3 linked regions of the Homo sapiens genome follow. The protein of the gene in region 3 purifies or fractionates together with the protein of the main gene of each other region. This does not show direct contact. Each region holds a gene or a part of one and is shown on either strand. Other genes may lie near its edges.

Region 1 (7,198 bases), on a different chromosome or scaffold from region 3:
TTTCCTGCCTCACACCATATACAAACCATCAATTCCTGGTAGAATAAAGGCTTAAATGTGAAAAGCAAAACTATAAACCTTTGAGAAGAAAATATAAGAGATTATGTCCATGACTTTAGGGTACAGAAGGGTTTCTTAGACAAGACCACAAGGCAGTCACAATAAACAAAAGGATCAAGACAAAATTTTATAGATAAAATTATAAACATCTGTTTATTAAGATACCTTTTATATTGAAGCTGCATGATTACACATGCAGACCCGTTATTCTATTCTGCCTAGCAGTGACAGAAACAAACCACAAATTGAGGTATTTGACACTTACGTAACTAAAAAAGGTTTAGCATACAAATATATGTAAAGAATATAAATAAGAAGCAATCTGTTAAGAAAAAAGGCCGGGCGTGGCAGCTCACGCCTGTAATCCCAACACTTCGGTAGGCCGAGGCTGATAGATCACCTGAGTTCATGGCAAAACCCTGTCTCTACCAAAAATACAAAAAATTATCTGGGTGTGGTGGTGGGCGCCTGTAATACCAGCTACTTGGGAGGCTGAGGCAGGAGAATCGTTTGAACTCAGGAGGCAGATGTTGCAGTGAGCTGAGATCTCGCCATTGCACTCCAGCCTGGGCAACAAGAGTGAAACTCCGTCTCAAAAACAAAGAAAGAAAAAAGAGGCCGGGTGCGGTGGCTCACGCCTGTAATCCCAGCACTTTGGGAGGCCGAGACGGGCGGATCACGAGGTCAGGAGATCGAGACCATCCTGGCTAACACGGTGAAACCCCGTCTCTACTAAAAATACAAAAATTAGCCGGGCGTGGTGGCGCGCGCCTGTAGTCCCAGCTACACGGGAGGCTGAGGCAGGAGAATGGCGTGAACCCAGGAGGCGGAGCTTGCAGTGAGTCGAGATCGCGCCACTGCACTCCAGCCCGGGCGACAGAGCGAAACTCCGCCTCAAAAAAAAAAAAAAAAAAAAAGAAAAAAGAAAGAGGTATTTCACAAAAAGTGAATATTTGAAAAGATGTTTTACTTCTTTAATCAGAGAAAAGCAAAATCACAATGAGGTGTCATTTCATTTCCCTGTAGGCAGCCAAAAATTAAAACCTAAGGCAAAATTAAGTTTCGGCAAGTTTGTGGAACAACAGAACTCCAATACACTGCTGGTAGAAGTGAAAATTGCTATAGAATTAGAAAATGCCGTTACACCTTGGCATTATATTGTAACAATGAAAAGACCTATAACATACTCCAGGAATTCTACTCCTTCCACTAATGCACAAATAAGGTACACAAGAATGTGTAGCACCCAATCCTAGTGTTTCTGGAATTACCCAAATGTCCTTTGAGAAGGGCACTGGAAAATGCATCATATGTTCACACAGTTGAATGAATAACTACAACCTCATGCGTCAATGTGACTCAATCACAAAACACAGCGTTATCTGAAAAAAAATCAACAATATGAAAACATTTCTATAAAGATTAAAAACACCATTGCACAGTTGTATCAGGAAGCAGCAAATAGAGACCTCCTTGGCAATAGAGACTATTTCTTAAATTGGAGTATAAGTTCATAGATGCTGGTTGTGCTTCATAGCTTACATGACTGCTACATAGCTTACATGTGTGCTACGTGTGTGTGTGTGTATACATATATATATATGGAATAATTCATAATTGTTTAAAACTAGTTAAAGGGGGATGTTGAATGAACCCTACAAAATTTTAACGTTATTACCTTGAGGTTTGGATAATGTAGGACTTTCACTTTCTGTATTATTCATTTCTGGACTATTTAAAACTTATACAATTAAGTAAAATGTTTGTATTTGGGTAAAATGATTGCACAAAGGAAAACAAATTGCATAGAAATCTGGCACCATTTGAGGGCAATAATTACTGTTTTCAACTTACATAACTTCTCCAGGTGTCATATATTAAAATTATGTTTTGCGGACCGGGCGCGGTGGCTCACGCCTGTAATCCCAGCACTTTGGGAGGCCGAGGCGAGCGGATCACAAGGTCAGGAGATCGAGACCATCCTGGCTAACACGGTGAAACCCCGTCTCTACTAAAAATACAAAAAATTAGTCAGGCACGGTGGCGGGCGCCTGTAGTCCCAGCTACTCAGGAGGCTGAGGCAGGAGAATGGCGTGAACCTGGGAGGCAGAGCTTGCAGTGAGCCGAGATTGCGCCACTGCACTCCAGCCTGAGGGACAGAGCGAGACTCCATCTCAAAATAAATAAACAAATAAATAAATAAATAAATAAAATTATGTTTTGCATAGTCTGGGCTGCTAACTGTATTATCTTGAGAAAAATTTCCAACAACAATGGGTTTAAAAATGTTGGTTTTACTGAAAGCATGAATGCTTTTTCTGTACTGACAATTCCTGGCTTCATCTAATTTACGTTATACTTATTTGCCTTTGGCTCACTTCTGCACTTTTCCCATTTTTAAAAGATAAACTGTAAACTGCCACAAATCCTTTTCTGCTGGAGCCTGGACCAGGAGCGCGGATTCCTGTAAATAATGATGTAAATAAATAAGTAAATCAATGACTCCCATTCCCAAAGGGCCTTCTTTTCCATTTTTCTCTGGGGCATCGAAGTGCGGTGTGCCCTGCGAGCTCCCACAGGAACAACCCGGAACGTTTGTGGTCCTGTTGGGCCACCGCGTGCTCGGTAGGAAGCGGACGTCCCGGGGGCTGAAAGGGCCTTAGCGATTTTCTCGCTCTAGTCCCACCCGAGACCCGGGGCGCTGCAGGAACCTGCCCAGGCCACCGGGTGGGCGGCTGGGCGGGAGAAGCTGGGCAGCCCCTGGCAACACCGAACGGCCAGGACACACGCGGCTTCCTCCGCGGGAGGCGCTTCTCTCTGCGCCTGGGCCTTCACGACCCCTCCCGCGACCGTGGCCCCGAGGCCAGGTGCTTACTTGCCGCTCTCCACGCCGTGGCCGAGACCCAGCTAAGCAACCAGGGAAGCCTCGATGGGGTCATGGCGCCGACTCCCCGAGCCTCCGCGCAGGCGCAAAGCAGTAGTGGGAGGAGCAGGGGGCATGATCCGGAGCCTCCCTGCAGAGGGCGGGGCCTCCGTGGCCGGCTTTAGAAAAGGAGTTAGAGGCATCCCTGGGCTCTTTGGCCAAGAGAGACCCAGGCTACCTTGAGCCCGGTGTTAAAACGCCAAATCGTGGCTGCAGTTAGAAGAGGGAATAATTCCGTTCCGTTCATGCTTGTCAGTCTGAGCCGAAATGGCCCGTGGAAGATCCCTTTTATAGTTTACAAAGATTGAGCACCTTTTACTCTCTCACTCATGTAAAATGCTTCTTTTACCTAATTCTCCCTGTTTTGTGTTTTAAATCTTTGTTCAGTCAGCTCCTAGTTCGTCCATTCTGACCGACTAACCAGATGATATGAAAGGCGACATTTTTGAATGAGGTGCAAAGCAAGAAAAGGCTCTCCATCCAGGCCAGGATCCAGTGCAATGAGCTCTGCCCCTTAACCCTTACATCCCACCAGCTCTGATAGCGTTGAGTGGATGTGGCAGACCTGGATGCTTTGTGCAACTCGTGGAAATATTTACAGAATCATAGTGAAGGCCCCCAGAATTCTGGAATTTTGTCTTTTCTTTTAAAGAAAAGTTTCTGGCTAGCTATTGCGCCTTGGTAGTGTCTGACCATGTGACATCAAGTGGTTATACGATCGAAGCTTCTTATCATGAACTGAGAATTATCTGGTTCTCCTAGATAAGGAGATCCTTTTACGAAGAGAAAGTGGGCCGGGCAAGGTGGCTCACTCCTGTAATCCGAACACTTTGGGAGGCCGAGGCGGGTAGATTACCTGAGGTCAGGAGTTCGAGACCAGCCTGGCCAACACTCTACTAAAAATACAAAAATTAGCCGGGCGAGGTGGCACATTCCTGTAATCCCAGCTACTTGGGAGGCTGAGGTAGAAGAATCGCTTGAACTCGGGAGGCGGAGATTGCAGTGAGCAGAGATCACGCCACTGCACGCCAGCCTTGGAGACAGAGCAAAACTCCATCTCAAAAACAGAAAAAGAAAAAAGAGAGAAAGTGGGATACACAGAACTGGGCCAAAGTCAAAACGGAAACAGTTTTCATTTGTAGGGAGCTCACAGTCCTAATATCATGCTTTTGACCTTTAGCTTATATCTACAGTTTAATAATGAATTCCTTGTGACTAGCTGACTGAGGAAAAAATTCAAAGTCGGATGATGGCTTTGCTCAATAAACTGGCCCAGCTGGCAACTGACTGCTTTTCATATTTAGAGCCCCACTTAACAGAGGCCCTGAAGGAACAGAACAGGGAAAAAAAATTATTTCCAGCATGCATAATTTAGCTTATTTATGTATTTTATGTTTTTACAGGCACATGTCACCACACCTGGCTGATTTTTCTATTTTTAGTAGAGACAGGGTTTCGCCATGTTGACCAGGCTGGTTTCAAACTCCTGGCCTCAAGGGATCCACCCCTCTCAGCTTCCCAAAGTGCTGGGATTACAGGTGTGAGCCACTGTGCCTGGCCAGAATTTAGCTTATCTTGTATGCTTTGCCTAAAAAGAGACATGGCTTGAGATAAAAATCGACATTTCATAGGCAGTGACTGGTTTGTCAAGTGGCTGGGAACTGGGAATGTAAAAGTTTTGGACTGGGTCTTTGGAATAGGACCTCTCAAAGTGGTCCCAAAGCATGAAAACATTTGGGTCCTATTGAACGTTAAAAAAAAAAAAAAAAAAAAGAGCTTCCATTGCAGAAGGGCTCTTAATCAGAACAAGATTATTAGTTATCTATTGCTGCCTCACAAATTATCCCAAAATTTATTGGCTTAAAGCAATAAACAGTTATTCTCTCACAGTTTTTGTGGATCAGTAACCTAGAAGCCAGAGTGACTGTGGTTCTGGGTCCTAAATGAGGTTGCAGCCAAGCTGTTGGCTGAAGTCCCAGTCTCGTATAAATGCACAACTAAGGGAAGATCTGCTTCCAAGCTCATTCACATGATTATTGGCAAGATTTGGTTCCTTGTGGACTTTGGACTGGAAACCTTCTCAGTTATTTGTTAAGTGGGCTTCTCCAAAGGCTATCTTGCAACATGGCAGCTGGCTTTCCACAGGACAAATGAACTAAGGAGCAAGAAAGACCACTCAAAATGGAAGCCCTGAACTTCTGTAATCTCATTTCGGTAGCGACATCCCACCACTTCCACTGTATCCTATTATTAGGTCCCGGCCACTCTCAAAAGGGGATTACACAAGGGCTGCAACAGTGACCCATTCTGTGGACATCAATTACTCAGCCTCCTTCCCCCACAACAGGTGTGGACTCAGTAACAAGGTAGCCACGGTGGCAAGAATGGAGACATACATGTACTTTTAACACCGTCTTTCTTCTGCCATGACTGATTGGCTACTACCACTACTCGCCAACTGCAGTGACCAACTTGATCCCATGATACACTTTTATGTGGTCTGGGTGGCAGGTCTGATTACAATGAAATCCTACTGTTATGAAGGAGGTTGCAATTTGTTCTTACAGGAAGAGACAATTATTCTGCATTTAGATTGTTTTCCCTGATTTATGCTTATTATATACTTCACCTGTGGACTTACTGAATACCTTAACACACTACTCCATATTTAATACAATATCATATACAACATTGCTTCTTACCGAAGAACTCATTTTCTTGTGAAAGATGTAAAGCAGGGGACTAATGCCTGCAGGATTCACAGTCTTATATATTCCATCATCCAAAAGCAACCGATTTTATGGAATGACGGACAGCCTTATTGAAGGTTGTTTTGGAACGAGGTGAGAAAATACACTTTGGGATACTGCCCTAAAGGATTTGTCATATTTTCCAAATGAGTCAACGGTATTTGGTGATATATCTTCTGTTGACAGAATAACAGAGATCAAAGAGTAGAAAAGGGTCTGACTTCTTACTATTGCATATGACTTACTGATATAAAATATATTTTGCTTTCCATTGTAGTAGAGAAGAGACAAGCTCCGAAGGCCCCTGAACATGCCTGTATATTATTACTGAGTGTGCCAGACTGCAAGCCGTATCCATCTCCTGATGCTAAGCAGTTTCTGTAGTTAGTCATATAGGCACCTAAGTAGGTCAAGGCAATCACAGCATTACTACCATTTAACTGCTGCTCCCTGGGGGAGAGAGACTAGCTTGTTTGTTGTTTGCTCAAAAACTGCTTGATTCTTGATCCTGGATTCTTCTGTAATGCAACCCCCCATGTGCACAGACGTCATCCGGCCCTCTGCATCACACTGTGGGAATTGGGCTACGGGAACTGATGCAAATATGCGGACACTCTGGCTTCTATTTTGCTGTAATAAAGCTGTTTTGTCTTTTGTCCAGGAGTATCCTGTCATCATCCATGAAACTGCAGCAACCTAGCCTGTAACCTTGCAAGTAGGATAAAATCTCAGACCCTTCACTACTCTTGCTAGCCATCTCTGAGTCCAGGTTCTGTTGGTATAGCAATTTTTGTGCCCAGCTGGAATTGCCACCCAGCCATTTTGACCTCATTCCTCTAGGTAAGGTTAGAGAAAGTGGTGATGGTGCTAGCTGGAGTGATTGGCCCTGATGACCATGGAGAAAAGAGAGTAGGGAGAACAGTATAACCAGAAGTCAGGGGGGTCTCCTGGAATCCCTCCTCACAATACCATGTTTTTATATTTTATTTTAAAAAATACCATGCTGAATGGTAACATTTACATATAAGACTATTACAACCATATATAGGCAAGACCACCCACACCTCAGATCCTCTGTCATCCACTGGATACATAAATCTGATCAGCAGAGGTGCTGCTTGAACATAAAGAAAACAGAAAATAGTTGGCAGTGGTGAGAAGTCATAACCATCTAGATTCACGACCACTGACAGGACTAAGTACTGTATTTGCGACGTGTTATTAGAGAAATTTGGGACATAAAACATGCTGCTGCTTTTACACTATCCTGAAAATTCTGATTCAGGTGGTCCGTAATAAGGTCCTAGAATGTGTATTTTTAAAGTAGTCTAGGTAATTCTTGGCACGGACATTGCAAAGCCCTGCTCTATTTTGTTTTCTTCCTCACTGGCTCATGCATGTTTATAAAATTTTCTCTTATTTCATATGTATATATATATTTGAGTTGGGGGGTCTCCCTGTCGCC
Region 2 (7,023 bases), on a different chromosome or scaffold from region 3:
AACCCCCTGTCTCTACTAAAAATATAAGTCGTGGTGGGTGCCTGTAATCCCAGCTACTCAGGAGGGTGAGGCGGGAGAATCATTTGAACTGAGGAGGAGAAGGTTGCAGTGAGCAGAGATCGCGCCACTGCACTCCAGCCTGGGTGACAGAGCAAGATTCCATCTCAAAAAAAAGAAAAAAATAATTGTTTTTTGTAGAGCAGGTGTCTCACTATATTGCCCAGGCTGGTCTCTAACTCACGGCCTCAAGTAATCCTTCTGCCTTTGCCTCCCACTGTGTTGGGATTACAGGCCTGAGCCACTACACTTGACAGAGGTAAGGCTTCTTCTATTGTCTTCATAAAATACGCAGCATAGTACCCTGGGGCTATGAAATCCACAAAAGCTGACTCAGCATGGACTTTCCAAAGAGGAGAAGAATGAACTAATATGAAACTGAGGCAAAGCAAAGCAAACTAAACAAAAAACGTGCTGACCCAGGACCCCGACATGAGAATTTTCTTAGCCTGGACCTACTTCCTGTATATGGAAATTTCCTGGGTGTTTTGGAATTTAAAAATGATTATGTACTCTAAACCTCTAGTGCCAGTCCTCTGAAGCTGTTTTTTGAAGATCATTAGGTCAGAGAAACCTGATTGCTTGAGAAAGTTGCACTGGTTATCATCTTTTTTTTTTTTTAGATGGAGTCTTGCTCTGTCGCCCAGGCTGGAGTGCAGTGGCACGATCTCGGCTTACTGCAACCTCTGCCTCCCGGGTTCAAGTGATTCTCCTGCCTCAGCCTCCTGAGTAGCTGGGATTATAGACGCCCGCCACCACACCTGGCTAATTTTTGTATTTTTAGTAGAGACGGGGTTTTACCACGTTGGTCAGGCTGGTCTCGAACTCTGACCTTGTGATCTGCCCGCCTCGGCCTCTGAATGCCTGGCCTCACCTTTTTTTTTTTTTTTTTTAATGGAAAGGGAGTCTATGTTTCCCAGGCTGGTCTTAAACTCCTAGCCTCAAGCTAGCCTACCACCTAGACCTCCCAAAGTACTGGGATCACAGGCGTGAGCCACTGCGCCCAGTCGGTTATCACTTTCATAAGACTAGAAAAGACAGTAAGACTCTCCTTCTCCTGTAAATCTTAGAAAGAGTGTAAGGGAACCCAAAGATGTGTCTTAAGCAAATACTCCTAGAGTTCCCCAAGAGACTGGATATTATCAATACATTTATGTATACCTGGCATCCAACTAGAGCAGTTTGCTTTTACAAGAAATGGCATAAAAATTAAAAAAATAAATCCAATGAACTTTCTCTCAAAAAGGCTCCCTGGGAATTCTCTTACAAGATGGGAATTAAAAAAAAAATAAGAAAAACAAGATGGGAATAAAAAGGAGTAGCAATTGATACAATTCTGCTTTATTTTTTTTAGTCCAGATGGGTCACACCTTATGTTCTTGGTTCTGAAAGAGTCCTACAGGGAAAGGTTACTGAAAAGCATCTACCTTTCCTGTGTTGCCAGGACTTAATGGGGAAGGCTGCTGTTTAACTGCCGCAGAATGTTCCCTGAACAGCAGGACTCAGCCGAACTATCATAATATCCATCAGCATTTGCAACGCTAAATAAGATTAGCTGAATCAAAACAGATGTCTTAAAAGACTTGAAATGCTTGAAATGTACAGCTGAACAGATAAAAAGCCATGGGCCGGTATCAATACTGGCTTTTCCTTTTTTTTTAAGGTTTTCTTAGAAAAAAGCTCAGTGTCCTCACAGAATCAAGCTACTCTCTGCTTTTGTTTTATCCCAGGTGTTCCAAGCCAAGTCAGTGCCTGAGAGAGCAGATCTGGAGTCTGGAGTCTGACAGCTTTGGCTGACTCCCGGCTCTCAAGTCACTCTCTATGTGTCCTTGTGGAAGTCCATTACCCTCTCTGGGCCTCACCTTTAAATTGAAGGTAGATAATAAGCACAGTCATCTACCTCATGTCCAGTGCACAGAACAGAGCCGGGCACACAGTCTGGCTCCACGGACATCAGGCCAGTCGGTCTTCACTGCACCCTGTGCAATTTTTGCTATACCTGAGAACCACCTGAATCAACTTTCTTTAAAGTATCTCTTGGGTTTTCTTTAACTTGTTTTGCTTAAATTCACATTAAAAAACCACTTATATCCCTATTATACCATCATTAGTAATTATATTTTTCTTTTTTTTTTTTTTGAGACTGTCTCGCTCTATTGCCCAGGCTGGAGTGCAGTGGCGTGATCTTGGCTCACTGCAAACTCCACCTCCCGGGTTCCTGCCTCAGCCTCCCGAGTAGCCAGGATTACAGGCGTCCGCTATCACGCCCGGCTAATTTTTGTATTTTTAGTAGAGACAAGGTTTCACCATGTTGGCCAGGTTGATCTCGAACTCCTGACGCCAGCTGATCCACCCGCCTCGGCCTCCCAAAGTGCTGGGATTACAGGTGTGAGCCACCGCACCCGGCAGTAATTATATTTTTCTAATACAGAAAATGAATACATTGCTATTCATGTAGAAAATGTTAGTCTGCACACTGCCTCAAATGGGCTCATGTGGCACCAGCAGCACAAGTAACCACATGCTGAGGGAGACACTGTACCAGCCAATCCAGAACACAGCTACCAAGGACATGTCATGCTGGGAGCTGAGGGAGACTCACACATCTCCCCTGCTGGACAAGCATAAGTGCCAGACAGAAACTCTCCACTGCTCCCTTAATAAAAGAGCTCAGCAGCATGGAAGGTGCCAGCCAGCAGGTCCTAGCTAGGCCTTGAAGCGTGGAGCAGCTCACAGGGACCGCCAGATGCAGTAACCACAGGATAGAATGCTCCTGAAGGAAAGTAAACTCAGAAACCAGAACTTGCACCATGGTTAGAATTTTGGATGCATTTACCCAAGAAAAGGAATTAGGTTGCACAGCAAGTTCACCCAGCAGAGAGCTGCAGCTGTTTTCCAGATGTCTCTATCAGCTTTGGCCAGCCCAAGCCTCTTTGGAAGACCACAAGTATCTGGAGCCCAACAGGAATGAAATGCTCACCTTCTCTGCATGATCTTCGGAAGGTCAAAGTAGAGTCAACTTCATTCTTAATCTTGATTAAAGCATCCAATACCATGGGGCCACATCTAACAAAGAAAAATATCCAGTGGTATTTATGTAACGTTCAACCTCCCTACACTTTATCATAATATAATCGGAGACACCTGGATGTATTAGCTTATCCATTTGGTCTTCTCAGGTCACCTTCGGAATTTGTTCTGTAGTTTTGTTTTTGCAGATTCTTACATTTTAAGTACTGCACAGTTCTATTTTGATGATCACAGTGCAAACACATTTCTAGGAAATGGAAAGCTAAAGTAGTAGTAGACAAGTATGACACAACTTCCATACAGTGGCCGAGTTTTTGTTTTTTACTTCTGAAGCTCCCTGCAAAGTTTTTCCAAATAATTTATTTCAAATTTTAGTTTGATTTTTAGGATGTAGACAATAGTTTTAAATAGTAATTAATAATACATAACCATAAGAGAAGACATAGTACAGAGAATAAAAGACACCCAATCACTCACAGTCCCCCAGTCAAATCACTGTGAGCCTCCTAGAACATACAAGGGCAGTGACATGGTACTAAGCGGAGCATCCCTGGGCGTGGGACCTGGAGTGCCGGCCTGGCAGCCAAGAGACTGGTCTGCACCATGGCTGAGCCACTTACCAGCTTGCAGGCAAATGATTTAATTTCTGCCTAGGCATTTAATCCACTGAGTGCAGAGAGCAGCACCTGCATCCCACAGGATTGCTGGAGGTGAGTTAATACACACGAGATCTTTACAGCAGCATCTGACATATAAATCATAGTTTAACTATAATAATCATCATGCAGAAACTGTGATTCTACGGAAATTACTCTCTGAACCTCAGTTTATCTGTAGAGTTAATATTTACACCACAGGGTTACTGTGAAAATTACATAAAAATATGTAATTTTTCATAGTACCTGGCATACAGTAAGTGCTCCACAAATCTATTTTCTGGTTGCCACCCTGCCCCCATTCCACTCACTAATTTTCTATGCATGAGATTAAAAATATACTTAAAAATACGTCATTTCCTTTAGTACTATCTGTATTTCATTTTTTTTCTTTTTTTTCTTGAGACGGGGTCTTGCTCTGTTACCCAGGCTGGAGTGCAGTGGCACGATCTCAGATCTGTAACCTCCGCATCCCAGCCTCAAGAGATCCTCCTGCCTCAGCCCCCCAGTAGCTGGGACTACAGGTATGTGCCACCACATCCAGCTTAATTTTTGTATTTTTTTGTAGAGGTGGGATTTCGCCATGTTGCCCAGGCTGGTCTCTAACTCCTGGACTCAAGTGATCCTCCTGCCTTGGATTCTCAAAGTGTTGGGATTATGGGTGTGAGGCAATGGTGCGATCTCGGCTCACTGCAACCTCTACCTTCCGGGTTCAAGCGATTCTCCTGCCTCAGCCTCCCGAGTAGCTGGGATTACAGGTGCATGCCACCACACCCGGCAAATTTTTGTATTTTTAGTAGAGATAGGTTTTCCCATGTTGGCCAGGCTGGTCTCAAACTCCTGACCTCAAGTGATCCACCTGCCTCAGCCTTCCCAAATGCTGGGATTACAGGTGTGAGCGACTGCGTCTGGCCCATTATCTGTATTTGTATCAGCACTATGTAGACGTCCTTTCTGCTGGACCTCTGCTAACACTGGGAATTGGAAGCTTTAAAAACCTTTGCTATTCTGATACTGGAGAAGTGTTATTGTTTTCAGTGTTTTAAATCGAGACTTTTGAATACTACATAGGTTGAATGTTTGTCATAAATTTACTAATTTTTCTTTATTTCCCAATTATTTATTGAACATTTACTCTGCCAGGTTCTGTTCTAGATGCTGGGGATGTAGCAGAGAATAAAAGAGACGAATACCACCTGCCCGCACAAAGCTCTGTTCCAGAGGACTCATTCTAGAGACTCAGTCTGTCCACATTCTTTGCCTCTGTTTACCAGGGTCTTGGAAATTCTTTTTCATGATCTGAGGCTCTTATATATTATATCTGTTGCCATTTCTGCTTCCTCCCTCACTGCCAATAGTAATGTGCTATTTGACTTCTAATTTTGGTAACAGAATTTTAAACATACATGAGTTAAATGTTTACATTAATAAAGGTGGCTATTCTTTCTTTTATAACATTATCTATCACTTTTAAGCCTAAACAGACCACTGCCCTTCCTGAGGTCTGATAAATACTTTACATTTTTTTCTACTTAAAAAAAATTTTAAGTTACTCCCCTAAAACTGCAAAAACTGTATCAGTTGTCCCAAATCACTGACTAAATCCTCTTTTGCTTCTTATTTGTAATACCTTTCTCCCATATTTAATACTGGGAACTTAGATAAAATTGAGTCTGTTTTGTTGCTACATTTTTATTCTAATGATCTGCCTGTTCTTGTCCTAGCATATTTTAAATGACAACAACATCTTTGTTTTTTTTACATTACAAAGGCTAATATTTGCAGCCTATAAAAATTTCAAATTGGCCAGGTGGGTGGCTCACGCCTGTAATCCCAGCACTTTGGGAGGCACTTTGGGAGGCCTTGGCGGGTGGATCATGAGGTCAGGAGATTGAGACCATCCTGGCTAACGTGGTGAAACCGTCTCTACTAAAAATACAAAAAATTAGCTGGGTGTGGTTGCACGTGCCTGTAGTCCCAATTACTTGGGAGGCTGAGGCAGGAAAATTGCTTGAACCCCAGAGGCGGAGGTTGCAGTGAGCCGAGACCGCACCACTGCACTCCAGCCTGGGAGACAGAGCGAGACTGTCTCAAAAAAATAAATAAATAAATAGATAAATAAATAAATAAATTCAAATCAAAGGTAAAAAGTAATCCTGCAGATCATACTGGGACAGAGAAAAATATTAAAAAGTCAAAGTCCTCTCTTTAAGCTGTTTCATGCTAAATTTCCTAATAGGTAGGGCTCATTAAAGAGTACAACATAAATTTTCTCAGATTTTACATAGATACCAAAATTGTTTGATATTCTGGGTCCCTTGCATTTCTATAAGATTTTTAGAATCAACTTGTCAACTTCTGCAGAAAAGGCAGGTGGGATTTTGATGGGGATTGCAATGAATCTGGAAATCAATTTGGAGACCACTGCCTCCTTAACAACATTAAGTCTTCCAACCCACAAACAGGGCATGTCTTTCCATTTATTTATGTCTTCTTAAATTTCTTTCAACAATGTTTTACAGTTTTTCAGCATATAAGTCTTTTACTTATTTGATTTTTGAGACAGGATCTCACTCTGTCGCCCAGGCTGGATGGAGTGCAGTGTTGTGATCACAGCTCACTGCAGGTTTGACCTCCCAGGCTCAAGTGATTCTCCCACCTCAGCCTCCAAGTAGCTGGGACTATAGGCACAGGAAGGTCATCAAGCCCAGCTAACTTTTTTTGTAGAGATGGGGTTTTGTCTTATTGCCCATATAATTTGTTCCTAAGAATTTCTTTTTTGATGCTGTTATATGGAAAATAGTTTTTAAATTTCATTTTAGGATTGTTCATTGCTAGTGTATAGAAATCCAATTTTTGTTTTTTTAACAGTACTTACAGGCTTTTTTCTAGGTAAGCAGGGTTTTACATATATAAATATAAATATTTATATAAATATGAATATATAAATATAAATATTTATATAAATATGAATATATAAATATAAATATTTATATAAATATGAATATATAAATATAAATACATATATAAATATATATGTATACACACACACACACACATTTTTTCTGTAGAGACTAAGTCTTGCTATTGTTGCCCAGGCTGGTCTCAAAACTCCTGGCCTCAAGCAATCCTCCTGCCTTGGCCTCACAAAGAAAGTGCTAGTATTACAAGTGTGAGCCACCATGCCTAGCCTAGAAAAATACATTTATCTGCTAATATCTGCTACACGCCAGTATTTTCAGAAAAAGAATTATGCTGTTGTGAAAATGAAAGAATATAG
Region 3 (7,436 bases):
TCGTGTAGACCAGACTCTACATATTAAGTTAGAAGTCCACAACAGTTACTCTTAGTTTGATGTAAACGTAACCATTAAGTTATATTCAAACAACAGGTGCCAAGTTTGTAATGAGCACTAACTGAAAAATAAAGGCATAAAAATCCATGTCATGTCTAGCAGTATCTAGTATAACATAATCATAAATTAGATATTTTGAAGAACAGGTGGGGGGGAAAAAGACTTGGAAGTCTTAAGTATATTACTCTCTGGTGATAAAACTTCTCTAGCCAGGTTTTTCTCCCCTCCAATCATTAGCATCTTCTCTAGCCCTACTCTTTCAAAAAGACCAGTTCTTCAAGTATCTTTCCTGGTAGGATCCAACCTACCACGTCTAACTCCCAGGCTTAGATTAAGCTGCCTTGTAACTGTGATAATTATGTTATACAAAGAGATTACTACGTTTAAATTTATCTTTACCCAGCTGCCAATTCATTAATTCCAGTAGATCAACAATGGTCGGGGAAGACAGGAAAACTGTTCTCTACAGACGCGTGTCAACTAATAAATTCAGAAGGAATGAGGGAAACAAAAGAGCCACCATTGGAACACAATGGCAAAATCCATCAATGAATGCTAAGACTAGTAATCATCTGAAAGCCTGAGAGTACCTACCCCCAAATATGTATTAATTTCAAAAGAGAAAATAGTAAGTTTACAGTAGAGACACCACGTGGATTATTACTTTAACCAAGTGATCACAGTTATCATCACCAGTAAGAAGTCATGTTAGTATCATGTGCCCTCTGACATTAAGTGTTGAGGCGAACACTTTGCCCATGTGGTATTCTTACTGAGATGTTATGAAATGCATAACATCAATTTAACCATGAGAAAACATCAGACAAACTCAAATTGAGATACATTCCACAAAGTAACAGACTAGTACTTTTCAAAAAAGTATCAAGGTAATGAAAGATAGGAAGACGGAGCAACTGTCACAGAATGGAGATTAAGGAAAAAGAATAACTAAATGCATTGTAGAATCCCCATTGGATCCTGGAACAGAATAAGGACATTAGTGAAAGGGCTGGCAAATTGTAAATAAAGTCTGTAGTTAACAGCATTGTAGCAATGTTAATTTCTTGTTTTTGATCACTGTACCCTGATTATGTAAGATGCTAACACAGGGGGAAACAGGATGTAGGGAACTCTCTACTGTCTTTCTAACTCTTCTGTATGTCTAAAATTATTCCAAGTTTTAAAAAGCTCAATCCCAGTTACCAAGCCTACTAGGTCAACTAACACATTTTTTATTTATGCAGTTCTTTTTTATACCCTCTCTCTCTCCTACAACCTATTATCAATTTTTTCTGAGTTGCTACTCTTTCCTACTTTTTCCCAAAGAGGCTTCCATGTGCTTACATTTTAAGACTTCTTAAAATAACCTTATTTCCTCCCAACAGAGAGCTACTCTCCTTCCTGTACGGCCACAAAATGACCTACCATAAAAGATGTAAAATACTTTAATACAGTATCTTATAGCTTCATAACAATTAGCAATACACAAGTGCTTGTAAATACATTTACATACGTAAATTTTGAGATGCATAAACACTTATTATTTTATAGATGAGAAAATAAGACTAGAAAAATTATGTGATCTGACACTTAAAATGTCAGAGACTGAATCTGAATCCAGTTCTTCAGGCTCCAAAACCAAATTACCTTATTAAAATAAAGTGCTCTGTGTCTGAAAAGCTTCAACTTCCCTGCTTCAGGCAAGCGAATTACATCAAATACACCATGATTTTCAAGAAAGTTCTAAATTTCCCGATTGTTCTAAATGTCGCTCTTAAAAGCTTCAATAATTATACAAAAAAGAATTCTGGAAGTCAGTGCAAAGTTTGTGTTCACCCTAACCATTCTTTTGATTTTTTTTTACAAAGCCGACTTCAGTCATCTCCCCTTCAACTATTTAGGCCGAAGAACCGCTTACCTCTATTTTCATATCAGCTCCAACTCATGCTTTCAAATATCTGAGCTGTCATTCCAATCTCTAATTCCATTCATTTATTTATATTTGCAAATGAAAACTAGGGGCAATCCTGCAGGGCCCCGAGCCCCACGAAATACTCTGAATATCTTTTTTCCTTTACTCAAAAAAAAAAAAAAAAAGTCAAACGACTTATTGCTAATGCATGTGTCTGTTTAATATTTAGCGCAATGGTGCAGGGCGAAGTAACAATGACTTGAGACCGGAGGAAACAACTTTCGCCTGACTTAACTGCCACCAGCATTTTTCTCCTTCACAGTTTGTAATCTCCAACCTTTTGTAATCTTTTTCATGTTACCTGATTTCTGTATCAGCCAAGTGAGAAAATTATTTAAACCCAACCAAAAGCGCTGAGATTAAATAATAAATTACGGAAATAAGCCTTTAAATTTGAAAACTAATAAGAGAACCATTAATTTATTAATGGGCGCTTACTAGGTGCAAAGGCACTTAAAAGGACAAAAAGCTCCTGAGGTTTTTGAGCACTTAACGACGACTTGCTCATTTTTGTGACCTCCTACCCTCACCCTTTGAGCACCTGGCATCTGCAGGAGCTCAAAAGTTGAACTGAATTGGGGACGCTGAAGTAACAGGATCTGCTCTAGTGAGAAACCCGTGGGAGAAACTTTGGAAAGTGTTACCTGAACAGCATTACGCTATTTCAAACAGAACAGGTTGCTGCTCTGTTTAACCCCGCATGGGGGACTGGAACTAGAAACCTGGACACCGAGGAACCCCAAAGGTCTTGGGCAAAGAGAAGGGAGCGTCACTTGCCTCCCATTCTTGCAAGAAACGCTGTGCCTCGTCAGAACCAACGGTCTTATGTCTCCTAAATTCGTCTTTCACGTACTGGTCGCCCAGGGATTTGAGGTCCGGGGGCAGAACACGGTGCAGCTGCAAGACGCGCTTGTACAATGCCCGGACTCGAGAAACGTGCCGCCCCGGCATAGCGCCCCACGCCGACCGCCGACTGCGCCTGCGCAGAGGGACGGCGCGTTCCCGCACTTCTGCGAACTTGCGTATTAGTGAACCGGAAGGCAGACGAAAGAGGGCGCGCGACCTCTATCCGGTTTGGTCCCTTGCACAATCAGGTCCTCCCGGAAACCCAAGCTCCGCTGCGGGCGGAAAACGGGTCGGTCCTTCTCTAGGAGGGGCGTGGCCCTCGTGGAGTCGCGCCTGCGCCTCGTCGTGGCTTCTTCTGGCCTGCGTCCTGACGACACAGGCCTTGAAAGAGAGAGGTCTGTGGTGGGCCGTTGTCATTTCTCAGTCCCACTCCACTGTCTTTTTCATTCAACTTCGTTTCTGTCCTCCTACCAAAGGCCTGAGAAAAGCTTCGTTAAGATCGGGCTCCTCCGGGATTCCTTCCATGGTTCCCAACCCATTTGAGGCATTTAGAGTATTACTGCACCCTGCTTTAGGGATCAGAGTGAGATTAATCTCGCCATCCACTAGCTCACCAACCCACGCTCTTTGCACAGCGCTGTTCTCCCAATTTATACTCTGGGCATGGGCTCTTCCTTGCAAACAACCCAAGTGAGCCCAGAGCTGGCGGACTCCTTAGCCAAAGTCAAGTTGGCTGCTGAAGGATCCTTGGGAAGAGTTTTAAACGTATTGTTTCCAGGACCACGACCCTGGAGATTCTGGTTAAATAGTCTAGGATAATAAGAACGAGGAATCTAGAAATTTACAAAGCTCTATCTTTTGCGAAGGTAATACTGAGAGTAGAACTGGTTTCCAAAGCTGGCAGCTCCTTGTGTTGTCCTTTCCTGTCACACGTTTGGTTCTTCAGCAAATCCTGATGGCGTCACCAACAAAAATGCAGAAATCAACCATTTCGCCCCATGTACTCTACCACAATCTCTCTCCACTGGATATTGTGTTAGCTTCCATATCTGTGTTCAGCTTCTGGTCATGACCAACTTTGGTCATGCTCCAACATAATTTAAATTAAATTTGGCCTAAAATTTCCTCCCTACTCTGAGTTGCTATGTAGGGAACTGCAACCTAACTTAGTATGTAAATTAACTGCAACTGAGAGTATATTCTTGTGACAAGTAGCTGAGCTTCAGCCAATCACAGGCTGCCAACTGATCAGACTATGTGCATATAAGGCAAATACGTCATAATGTCCTGCCCAAATAAGACTAGCCCAACTGTAAGCAATCAAGCTGTTTCTGTGGGGCACTTCCTTTTTCTGTCTATAAATACTGCCTGCCCACAGTGCTGGGTAGAGCTCTCTGAACCTCTCCCTGTTAAGTGCTGCTGCCTGATGAATGCCTCATAAATCGTGTGTGTGTGTGCACGTGCGCTCGTGCAAATAAACTTTATTAGATTTAACTTGTTTAAAGTTTTTCTTTTAACAATCTAAACTGTAAATCGGATCATTTCACTCCTCTGCTCAACAAAAGCCTCCAGGGATTTTCATCAGAGTAAAGCCCAGTCTCTAGCCCTTAAAGGTTTAAATTTTCTCCTATTGCTTTCTCCCTAGTTAGCCAGTTGCAGCCACACTGGCCTCCTAGCTCTTAGTTCATATTTTAAAAAGCCAGGTACACTCCCAACTGAGGCCTTGGCACTTGCTGTCCCGTCTACTTGGAGTGCTTTGCCAAATGTATCTTCCTGGCTAACACTTTTATTTCACTCAGCGCATACTTCAGGTCCCCTTCTAATGAGACCCTCCCTGGCAACCCTATTTGAAACCCTGCTTGAAGTTGCAACCTCACCAAACCAAGAATTTCTTATGCTCCTCCTCTGCTTTGTTTCTCTCTATATTACTTACATAATTTACTCATGTGCTTATTCTCCATTTATTATCCCCCAACTAGAGTACAAATTCTATAGGGGCAGGGATTTTGTGATTTGTTAGTGACCTGCACTAGGTCTGTAGTAAGCACTCAATAAATATCTGTTGAATTAATGTGTGAAACTCACTAACGGTGTCAGATGCCTCATATTCCTGCTGGTGAAGAAGAGGCAGAAATGTTGAAATTTGTGTGATTGTCTCACAGACCCCAGACTTCTTTCTGTGCAAAAACTTTCTGAAAGAAAAACAAGACACACTCAGCTACTGAAGGCAGGTACTTACTCATTTTAGTATCCTTTTCAGGGCCCACCACAGTGCCATACAAATAGTAAGTAGAATTTATTGCTTTGAATAGAGCTTCTCCTTTTGCTTAAATTTAGGGAAAATATGTGTTTTAAAAAACACAGAACTTTTTAAAAATGGATTTAATTTGGTATTATGACAAACTGCATTAATGGCAAGGATTGAATGGCAGCGTGGTTATTTTGCTTCAGGAAATTTTTTTCTAACCATACTTCATCTGTTAATATCCCTGTAAAATTGAAAATTGATTTCTTGTCCCCGTTTGTTTTTTTCTGGTTTCCTTTGGAGTTAAAGAACATGTGTAATAAATACCTCTTTCAAGAGCCAACACTCTTATAAAAATGTGAGAAAACATTCTGCCAATGAATTAATTAAAAAATAAAGGAATTAATTGAGCCTAAAGAGAGTAGAAAGGGTCCACAAAGCATTGGAGAATCAATGCTCAAAATGGCAGACGATGGGTGAAAGAGAAGCCAAGACATAGTGGTGTGGTTAGGCCTTGAGAAGTGGAATAAAGCAATAACAGTGAGAATAATGACAGTTAACCTTTATTTTATTTTTTTTACAACAAGCTGGACAGTGAGCTATGTTTTGAGGACAAAACTTTTCTCTGTTTCCCTGACCAATTTAGGCTGATCAGTGTTCCTCTTGTGGTAAAAATAGCCATGAACTGAAAATAAAATCACACTTATATTTCTGGCCACCAATCTAGATCACTACACTTCATGCAGACCTTTCCTTTATCCTTCCTTCATGTGTTTCTTTTTCTTATATGTTACTCTGCAAGTGATTTAACCGCTCTGTGCCCAGATTTTCTCACTTGTAAATGAGCTGGGTTAGGTAATTTGCAGTACTTTCCAACTTTACTAATCTCTAACCATGACTTCTCTCAGATTCCCTCCAAAATTTTTTGTAAAGTGAAAGAGAACATATATCCACTCTTAAATAATTGCTTTAAAAATTTTTTGTTTAGAAAAACGTGGGGTAAATGCCTTAAAATTGTATATGGAACACATCACCTAAGCCTTTCAGGGCACACAAAATATAATAACCACCTATAGCCATAGGGATGATCAACACAGCAACTGCACTATTCAGTGTATTGCTTCTGTGGACTACCTCACACACAGCTAGAAATGGAAGGAGGCAGCTAGGGACAATTTTTGGCAAGCAGATAGAGAATTTTGAGGTCAAAAGAGATGGAGAGAATTGGTAAATGAGGAAAAATAAATTAAAGGAGAAGAAATACCTGTATGGAGTGTACTGAATTTTCACTTTGTATTATACTCTAGTCTTTACTAAAATGTTGAAAATAAGACTTGCTTGCAAATAATGCTAAAGCATTTTTCTCTCAAACGGAAGTGAGAAAGGAGTGGGGAGGGGGAGAACTGATGACAAAAGATTTGGAAGCTGCTTTACATCATTAGATAAGAAAACAAGGTTTTTACAGTCTTGAATTCAGTTGCACAAGTGGCTCAGTTTTCAAATTATAGTTACTCAAATTTCAAGTTCTAAATTACTGAGAACAATGAAAAGTCTGGGACAAGATACATCTTCAACCCAAACAGCTCTCACATGCTTAGAGGCCTAGAGAGATGTACAAACCTGATCTGGCCATTGCGACTACCCATGGTCCCCCAAAACAACACCAGAAATTGTCTTTCATTTCCCACCTTACCTTGGAGTCTCAAAGTTAGGTACATCATTGTGTGACGATTAAAACTATAAAAAGAAAAGAATTCTTTAACGTTTTTAAATGGTATCTGGTATGTCTAATTATTGAAATGCAATGGTAAGATAGCAGATAGTCTTAAAACCAAAATTTCAAGCTTAAACATACTGTTCAAGGAATTAGAAAAGCAAATACATTCATGGAAAGTCCATTCTCTGAAAGTCAGTTTAGAAAGCATAATAGTCTTTAGCATTTTTCTGAATTTCTGAAACATGTTACATAAAAAATACCAGAGACGGGAGGCTGAGGCAGGAGAATGGCATGAAACAGGGAGGTGGAACTTGCAGTGAGCCGAGATTGCGCCACTGCACTCCAGCTTGGGTGACAGAGCGAGATACCGTCTCAAAAAAAAAAAAAAAAATCAAAGAGAAACTTAATGTGTTTGTATCTGGAGAGAAAAAGCAAACCATAAGGAATGTTTTTAAATGTTTATAATTGTTGATTACTGAGAACAGAAAATCAATCGAAAGTCCAGATAAAATGTTATATTTTATAATTTAAAGTATTAATGATATACTATAAGATATAAGGAGGAAAAAAATGACCATTGTTCATAAGCTGAAAAA

Evidence for each region. Proteins that work in one complex are often made in the same cells at the same time.
Region 1: the proteins of SDHAF3 (region 3) and SDHAF4 purify together in Homo sapiens (affinity purification with mass spectrometry; 3 studies listed by BioGRID and IntAct, with this or other methods). This does not show direct contact.
Region 2: the proteins of SDHAF3 (region 3) and SDHB purify together in Homo sapiens (affinity purification with mass spectrometry; 3 studies listed by BioGRID and IntAct, with this or other methods). This does not show direct contact.

The regions. Positions count from the first base shown.
Region 1 is NC_000006.12:70,562,742-70,569,939, reverse strand, and holds the start of SDHAF4 (succinate dehydrogenase assembly factor 4, mitochondrial precursor), read right to left. Parts: upstream 3,011-7,198; 5' UTR 3,000-3,010; coding exon 2,936-2,999; intron 1-2,935. UniProt on the Homo sapiens protein: Plays an essential role in the assembly of succinate dehydrogenase (SDH), an enzyme complex (also referred to as respiratory complex II) that is a component of both the tricarboxylic acid (TCA) cycle and the mitochondrial electron transport chain, and which couples the oxidation of succinate to fumarate with the reduction of ubiquinone (coenzyme Q) to ubiquinol.
Region 2 is NC_000001.11:17,030,023-17,037,045, forward strand, and holds part of SDHB (succinate dehydrogenase [ubiquinone] iron-sulfur subunit, mitochondrial isoform 1 precursor), read right to left. Parts: intron 3,124-7,023; coding exon 3,038-3,123; intron 1-3,037. UniProt on the Homo sapiens protein: Iron-sulfur protein (IP) subunit of the succinate dehydrogenase complex (mitochondrial respiratory chain complex II), responsible for transferring electrons from succinate to ubiquinone (coenzyme Q).
Region 3 is NC_000007.14:97,113,271-97,120,706, reverse strand, and holds the start of SDHAF3 (succinate dehydrogenase assembly factor 3, mitochondrial precursor), read right to left. Parts: upstream 3,010-7,436; 5' UTR 2,984-3,009; coding exon 2,810-2,983; intron 1-2,809. UniProt on the Homo sapiens protein: Plays an essential role in the assembly of succinate dehydrogenase (SDH), an enzyme complex (also referred to as respiratory complex II) that is a component of both the tricarboxylic acid (TCA) cycle and the mitochondrial electron transport chain, and which couples the oxidation of succinate to fumarate with the reduction of ubiquinone (coenzyme Q) to ubiquinol.